Linked DNA regions of Homo sapiens: region 2 is linked to region 1. The links come from fine-mapping of genetic effects on gene expression. Tissue or cell type: nasal epithelium. Region 1 holds a variant in brackets; the other region holds the start of a gene. All regions are shown on one strand. Distances are from middle to middle.

What was found. PIP is the estimated chance that this variant, and not a neighbour inherited with it, causes the effect.
Region 2: SLC6A15 starts here. The variant in region 1 is the best candidate, but not a certain one, in a credible set for the expression of SLC6A15 in nasal epithelium (TOPMed, PIP 0.62).

What each region holds. Positions count from the first base shown.
Region 1 is chr12:84,951,077-84,955,478 of GRCh38, forward strand. The region is part of intron 2 of LOC102724680 (a long non-coding RNA gene); the gene reads left to right. Among named protein-coding and RNA genes, the nearest start is that of SLC6A15, 40 kb to the left of the region's middle. The variant T/G (reference allele first, on the strand shown) is at 2,189.
Region 2 is chr12:84,910,436-84,914,837 of GRCh38, forward strand. SLC6A15 (solute carrier family 6 member 15) reads right to left here and starts at 2,364. Exons shown (of 12, transcript NM_182767.6): 1 at 2,088-2,364. LOC102724680 (a long non-coding RNA gene) reads left to right here and starts at 2,402. Exons shown (of 4, transcript XR_945154.3): 1 at 2,402-2,469; 2 at 4,322-4,402. RefSeq lists enhancers at 934-1,482, 2,031-2,578, 2,579-3,125.

The DNA.
Region 1 (4,402 bases):
AAAAGGAAAAGCAGTCACATCAACTTGCGAATGATAAGAAGAATCATAAAATTAGTCAGATTTAAAACTGATCTTGAGCAATGCAGGGAATTCCGGCAAGTACATGAGTGTGAATGCTGTTGCAGGCCTGGGCAGTATGAGCACATGTGAAGTATCTGCCTGTTTGCCTTCCTTCTTTCCTCCCTCCTTTCCTCACTTCCTTTTTTTCTCCCTCCCTTCCTGTCTTCCTTGTCTCCTCCTTCCCTCCCTTTCTTCCTTCTTTCCTTCCTCCCTTCCTCTCTTCTACCCTTTCTTCCCTTCTTCTCTCTCACTCTCTCTTCTTCCTTTCCTTTGTCCATCCTCTCCCTTTCTCCTTTCTTTTCTTCCTACCTTAAGCATTTTGGGGGCAGTAACTAAAAACCATAATGGATGCTAACGTTAAAAATGAAAATAAAGAGTTCCTGTCTTCTAGATCATGGAGTCAGAATGCAATATCTATATATTTTTGATTTTTGATGGAATTTTAAGTGATCCATGCAAAGCAACTTTTTTTCGTATTCCTCTTGGAATTCAGATAATACAGCATTTCTATAAGTAGAAATGTATAAGAAGTATGTTTTGTGGAAGTTGGATTTAAATCTTTGATATATGCCAAGTGATCAAAAATTATATATTGCCCTGAGTGTATTTAGAATATGAAAAATTGGGTATGAAGTAGAAAATAATTTGATTTTTACATGAAATATATAAATTTATTTGAAACTATAAAATACAATTAAACATTGTCTTTCTGACTCTATTGTTATGGTGTGTGATATGCATCTTTAAAAGAATGGTTTTAGCACTTTTTAGAGAACTGTGTGGCTGATGACTTTTCACATGGCTTAAATAATTATCCAATTAAATTTGTGCATATAAAGCCAAATGGAAAAACACTTTGTTTCTAACAGATGAATAATTTGATGAAGAAGGAATAGAGGGATAATGTATAGATAAATTAAAAATTACACACACACAGTGGAAATACTCTCATAAGAGGACAATTTCACCTTAATGTAATAAAAATTAAATGTCAATTAATTTAATGATTCTAAGAAAATAATTATATTATTTAGACTTCTTCAAGACTGTAGAATCTTCTATTTTTTTATATTGGCAACTATGAAATTGCTTTCTTTTTGTAGCCAGAAAGCACAGCTGACAGATAAAAAAAAAATTGTTAATTTCATAACTCCTAAAGACTAAATGGAGACTGGCATTAAGATTTGAGATATTCAATGCTATTTCTGTACAATATGTTTAGCTTGTTGTTTTCTCAATTTGATGTTGGGATATGGCCCAGAGTTTTTCTTTCTATTTTAACTGTGCTCTTGAGATATGCATTTCATAATTTTTGTCTCTATTACAATTGAAAAAAATGTCTACATAAATTACTCTAATTACATAAATTACCTAAATTAACTGAAGACAGTAAAAGGAAAACTTTGCAATTATCCGTTTCACTTAACATAGAATTTGCACAATATTATTTTAACAGATGTCTGCTTTATCCTTTGTTTAGACACAACTGTAAAGCACTTTTTGTGAGATTTCAACTGGGGAATTTTCTATGAAGATGTAAAATAAAAAATATGTTTGATTACAATAAAATAAAATTTATTCAATTATTCTGTGAGGTGCACATAATTAGACATTATAGGTAGTTCTAAAAGTATAAACATCGTTTTTTTCCAAAATTTTATTTATGAGAAAAAACTTTTTTAAGAAAAGGAAAATGAGTGGCTTTTCTATAGAATCTCATAAAGGTTTATTTTATCCACTAATAAGCTGTCTTACAGCAAATTAATACTCTGCTAATAAATGCCTGTGTATAAGACTACCCAGAGAACATAAAATGTTTTTTTAATAAGAATAATAGAATTAAACAAAAGTTAATAGAAATTATTAACGAGAAAGAAATGAGACAAAATATTTTACGTTGATTTTTGTTCAAACATTGATTTGGGTAAACTTATACTGTTAAATAAAGAATTGTTTAAAGCAATGTTACTATATTGGACATTTTGGTTATCTCCATTATCTATGACTTTCCAATACATTAGCCCATTGGTTTGTAGAATTCATCTCAGCTCAGTTAGGTGCTGCGAGTAATCTAAGCTTCTCGTTCTCAACACTGACGGCACATTAGAATGAGCAGGAGAGGTTTTTG[T/G]TTTTTTTTTTAAATCTAATGGTGTTAGGGCCTCACTTCATAGCCTCTGACCAGTATTTTTTATTTCTAGGGTCATTCTAAAGTGCAGCCATTACTGAGAATTATTGGTGGAAACTAATTACAATATTGCGTTTATCTATCCGACGAATATTTTAGAAACCAGGTTTGATTCAAGCGTGGGAATGTAGAATTGTAGATCCTGGTCAGGCAGTGGCATCTGGTGTCTCCTGGCAACATCAGAGAATGCATACCCACAGACAGATGAAACCTATGAGGCACTCTTCATGAGTGATATCTAGTGACTAGTTTGTAATGTGTCCAAGACATATAAAGATAGTCCCCATTGCATTTTAAGAAAATACATCTAAATTTCACATTTTAGATCCAGGTGACATGGGTTATTAGAATCAATTATGGTAACACTTTAAATTAAGTGTATTAGAGCTTCAGGGTGATATGCTAAGGTAGCTCCCTTGCTAAGCCCACTCTTAGGACTTGTCACAATCTGGAAGAACACACAGAATACTATTGCCAACATGACCAGGAAAACTGGAAAATGTCAGTTTTAGACATCCCAGTTGTCTCAGTGCTTTCTCAGTACCCTCCGCTGAAAATATATTGTCTACATTTATCACAGCAAAATATAACTTCTATAGAATTTGTCAGTGTTTATTTTTATCATGTCTCTAACCCATTCGCTTATGGAATTACCACAGCATATGATATAATTCTGTCCACTGACACATGAATGAAAGTTCATTGGGATTCCTAGAATACATTTTCACTGGGACTTCTACAAAAAAATTTCAGACACCTCTTCTAGATGTTGTAATATGGCTTTGAACCTTACAAAATGTTGTATCCTTTCGTTTGTATCAAATGAAAATGAAACTGGTGAAAGGAAGGTGGTGAATTGCAGAGAAGCATGTTGGAGATACTTAGGGCACCTCTGCAGCCTGGTCTACTTCTGGATTTCTAGTTACATGAAGCAGTAACTGCTGCCAAGAGCATGATTGCCGTAAGAGTTAGTACATGTTTACCCAGAAAACAGTATGTTCAGGCCCACCATTTTTATCTAAAATGCTTGGGATCGCAAGTATTTCATAAGCATTTGTATTATTTTAGGAAGGCCGTATACATGTTACATACTGTGAAATAAGCTTAGCAGAGCCTAGGACAGCACTACATTATCAAGAAAAAAAATCTCTGGAACAAAAAAAAGTGTGTGGATGAATGGTTGGCTAGAGAGATGGAAATAGATATACTGATACACAGGTATATACAGGTATTTGTGTACACATGTATACACACACATTCACACTATGTATCATAAAGACTATAAATAGTCTCACTTCAGTTCACTTCACGTCTTGTCTAAATTAGTCATAAGCCACTTTCAGTTTTTGGATTTCAGATTTGTGGACAAGCATTGTGAACCTTTTATACTTATATTACTCTTCTCTTCCTCTCATTCTTTTTTCTCTTTACCCTTTTATGTTAATCTTAGATTATGGCACCAGAGATAAGAAGATAATGTGAACAACAAATATAATTACAATCAGTCCTGTATGACTGATTTTTAAGATTATTTTGTTAATTTTTAAAACTCAATTTCTTCTAATTATATTTGGCAATGATAGGCTATATTAACTCATAATTCGAGCAATTTGAAAAAATTCAATTTAATGCTTATTCATTAAAATGTTCAAGAATCAATAATAATTTAATCATAAGACATAAGTACACATATTAAGATTGTAAAACTAATGGTCATCTAATTCTCTTAGATAATTAGGTTATATACAAAGATTGTCCAGAAATTGCATCTAATTAAAGCATGAATGAAGTAATCATCAGAAGTTCATAAAAGACTTTCCTTCATCATCTTCCTTTTCTCCCTGGTCATATTTCTCACTTTTCATTAGTTCACAAATTAATCATTCCAAGCTATTCAAATTCGGAGAGCAAGAAACTCAGAAGTAGCATAGCCTTAACAAGGGATGCATATGATAACACATTAAATGTATTTCAAAATTTTATTTCCAGGTTTTGCATACCGTGATTTTATATGTTTAGTGTTACAGAAAGGTTTAAAATATCTTAATCAGAATTTAAATGCACCGTGATCCTTGGGTATATGTTTTACATTTCAATCTCTACATTTTTTTCCACTGTAACGTAACTTTGCACATGAGTCATTTGAACTAGTTTATT
Region 2 (4,402 bases), 41 kb before region 1:
AATAAAATCGCCTGATTTTGATGGTCAAATATCTTGAATTTAATATGAGAGAAAAAAATACATACTGTTTGTTAGTCCAAACTGCACCATGTTGTAAGCTCCCTGCTATTTTGCAGACCTTGGTGAAAGCGAAACATTTCACAGGGGTTCGAGCTGTGAGAAACATCCCGTCTAACCAACTGACCACGAGTTGGACAAAGGCCTAACTAAAGAGACATCCCTATCATATCTTGCTGGACAAAGGTCCAAGGAACACCCTGAACAACAGAACGACATCGCGCCGGAACAAGAGCCAGAACCGCCTCTTCATGGAAGCATCTTATTAATATCCCGCGGAGCAGCAAGCCATACTGCTCAGACCCCTTCTGCCCGTACCTATAAATGGCCCCAGCCTGTAAGCGGCAGCGGGCTCCGGCATTAGGCTGGTCCTCCACTTCTGTAGGATTTATGCTGGACAGAAAGCCTGAATTTGCTGTTGAGCCGCCCTCTTTCCGTGTGTGTGTGTGTGTGTGTGTGTGTCTTTAACCCTCGCCTTCCCTTCAAAACCTAACACTGTTCAAAGAAGATTTAGTCCATCATTAAGTATTTATTAAGAACGTACAAGTCAAGCCCAGTACTGGGCGCCTAAGACATAAATAGGTCTGTGTTTCAGCAATGATCTTGCAGAAATGAGGTTGGGTGGGTGAGGGGCTTGTTGGGGCTGTGTCTGCACATAATAATTCCTCAAAACAAACACTTTGTTGCTGGCACAGCAGAAAAGCAATCAGGCATTGACAGGTAGAAAATAGCTTTTACAGCATGGGCGATGAGGAGCCCCAAAGCAGCATATAAAGCAAATCCTTCATTTCTCCCATACGTCTTAAGTAGTGAACCGCAAGGATGGTGCAGACTAAGATTGGGTCTACCTATAAGATCTGGAGGGGAAAACGGCAAGACCAGAAGAAACCGTCGCAGACTTATTTGCATAAGCACCCAAACACTGCTTACGTCACTGCGCCGGAGTCCGGACCCCGCCCCGTCTTACTCCAGCCTTTCCCAGCTAGGGAGGAGGATGGAAAGGGAAAGCGGGACGCTGGAGAGCGCGAGCCTGGGGGCTTTGCTTCCTAAAACGCACATCAAAGGCTGCTTCTCAGCTCAGGAAAAATAATTCCCGTTCCCGCAGCCTGTGCCACTGGGTGGGTCATGCCTGTTCCCGAACGCCTCGGGCGTCTTGATTCATTCTTATGTATCCAGTTGGTGCGCTACGTTAGAGTGCAAGGATTTCCCTGTACTCAATACCGTCTTCTTCCCAGTCACACACAGACCAGCCTAGTGAAAGAAAGGTAGAAACGATCTGGGTTTCTAACTGCTTCCCATCTTCTTACAGTCCCAGCAGCACCACCCTCACCGCCACACTCTCAAATTCCAGGATGCGCAGAAACACAGGAGCCGTGATTTCTCCAGCAGCCACGTGCCTTTCGTACGGCGAAAGGCCCCCTTTCGGGCCATTTATCACAGGATACCTCAAGCAAAGGGGAACTGTGGTCACGTGAAAACACTCTGTCCTCGGTAGTCGCCTTCTGCCTTTGCTAAAGCGAACGGAAGCGAATGAGGAATAAAGCTCTCTGCTCTCCCCGCCCCATCGCCCACCTGCACGAGGTTTAGCTTCCAATTCACCTCGCGTCTCTCTCTGCCCCAACCCTCCCAACTTTCCTCTTGGACTTTCCCGTGTTGGACCCCACCCTTCAACCAACCCCGACTTGGCTTGGAAACGAGTAGGTCTCTGGGGATGCTGTGGGCAATTTCCACGACGGGAAGAAAGGATGGCGGCACGTTTCAACCCATGTGCTTCCCCTTACATGTGCAGCCTGTCGCCCCCCACCCTGATTGTACAGAGATGCAGAGTTAGACGGTTGCCCGCCCAGCCCAGCTTCTCCCTCCCAGGGCTTTTGAGCTGCCCTCCCTCCTCCCACCCCAGGACGCAGCGAGTCCTTCCCGGCATCCATCCATCAATTCGTTCCCGGTGCTGGTGCCCAGGCTCCTGGGTGGCTAATGGCGAGCCCCACCTCACCCCCAGTTGTGCCCTTAGCGTAGGCGCTTGCCATTACCGTCAGTGTGTCTTGACCAAGCGCCTCTTGCTGCTTCCACGTCCGGGCAGCAGCAGCAGCAGTCGCGAAAGGGTAGGGTCCAGGTGGCTGTGACGGAGGCCGAAGAGGAGCTGTTGGCAGAGAAGCAGCTTCTTGCCTAGGTTGGGACCCGGAGCTGGGTTTTGGGGGTCGCCGCCCTGCAGGCTGGCAAGGAGAGACTCGTGAGCGCCTGTGTGTCTGCCAGGGAAACAGCACGGGATACAGGCGCGCGGGTGCGGGTGCGCGTGTACATGCGTATGTGTGTGTGCGCGCGCGCGTGTGTGTATGTGTGAGGGTGTGACGGAGGCGCCCACGTGCTCGGCCCGCCCGTGTTACGGCCGCCTACCGGCTGCAGAGGAGAAGGGTAGGCTGTGGGCGGCGGCGGGGCGCGGAGGGGTAGCCAGGAGCGCAGGCTGGGCTCCGCACCTCCCTGCCCCAAAACCCATTGATGCAGCGGCCACTGCGGCTGCCGAGCGGCGTCTTCCCAGAGCCCGGGGCTGTGCCCGCCCGATGCAGGATGCAACTGAGGAAGCCCGCTCCAAAGCAAAACAAAACAAATTCCTCCAGCCATGCCGTCTTTCTCCAACCCACTCAAGCGAAAGAATGGACACCAGTTACCAGCCGCTGACTTTTGTCTCAGTGAGAATAATAATAGGCATGGTGCTACCTGGCACCATCTGAATATTCTCCAAGAGTCAGTAATGGGACTAGAAAAAATGGGTGACCCAAAGAACCCTTTTCCCTACCTATTCCCCCAAGCCGGCCATTTACATCTCTTGCGAAAGAAAAAGCCTCTGGGCATTGGCTTCTCCGTCAGGCGGTGGCCTCATAGCGCTCAGTGATTCTCGCCAGGTTATGAAAGGCCGTTTTAGAAAGCTGGCCCTCACCCACCCTGTGTTGGTGCCTCAGCAGCAGACTTTTTTCCAAGGGGTCTCATTACAAGATGAAGCCTGACTTACCTCTGCTAACAATCAAGGCATGCTCGTAATTAAGCCACGTGGAGAATTCCTAAAATATACACCTCTGAACACAAAGCTTAGCCTCCTTTTGAAAATGGCTGAACCGTCCCCTAAACAGTGCGTATGCTCTAAGGATGAAATTTTCCGTCCTTGAAACGTTCAAAATTTGAAAGAAATACAAAATGAACCTAGAAGCTAGGTAGAAAGGTTCAGTAATTTAGCAAAGTTAATTTTTCACTTCCAGATTATTAATATTACTCTTAAAAACTACTTTTGTGCACTTTTAGGCCTTTTAACAATCCCTTAGATTTTTACGGTTCGTATCCAATTAAGATTGAATTAAATTAAAAAGGCCATTGCAAACAGGTTTTTCATGCAGTGAAAAATCTCTTGGAAAGAAATCACAAGACCTAAATTTCAGGTCAGAACATTGCTACTAATCCTTAGCTTTTAAAACAGCCAAGAGAGTTTTTTCTCAGCCTCTCTTCCAATCCCAACTTTGAAAAATTAAAAGTTAAGAAATTAAATTAGATTTGATTCCCTGATACGCCTCCCCTGCCATGAGTAAATAAATGCTCTTTGATAGATGCGCCACGTGAAAAAATAAAAACAGTCAAAATAAACCTTTTATAGGACTTTTTTTGCTTTTTACTTCACATTTTGGTGACAGGCAAATATTTAATGTTGATATATAAAGAAACTGAAATACAGTACCAACATTATCAATAACAACTGAGAAAATTTTAGGAAAATAAGGAGAGCTGTGTCCACCATGATCAGGATTAGGATTATCTGTGGGAAACAAAGTTATCCATATGCTGGCAGAAATCGTTTACGGTAGTACCAAGAAGTACGAAAATTATTTCTCTCCCACGCTTTTTCACTAGTGTCTGATACCTAATTCCAATACATATGCATAGGTCACAAAATATTTGTAGAGCGATGCCCTCCATAATGACTGATACTAATTTATGTCTCAATGCCAATGAAGAGAAGTAGGAGAAAGCAACTATTGTTTTAAGCTTCCCACTAAGTACCTGGGGCTTAATAATATCTTATTTAATCCTCTCAACTAATTAATGAGGTGATTTTTCCTAATTTAGAGATTAGAGAGAGGTGATACTCAAAAAAAATTGCAAAAAGTCAGAAAACTTGTTCAATGACAGAATGGAGAAATAAATTCAGATATGCTGGCCTCAAACTTCATGTGCTTTTATACTATCCTGTAACCCTTTAACAAATTATCTATTTTAACAGGAGGAAAGGGTGGAATCTCAACACAAGTGGTAGGCAACTTTGAAAACAATAAATAGATGAAGAATGGAGAGACCTCAAAAG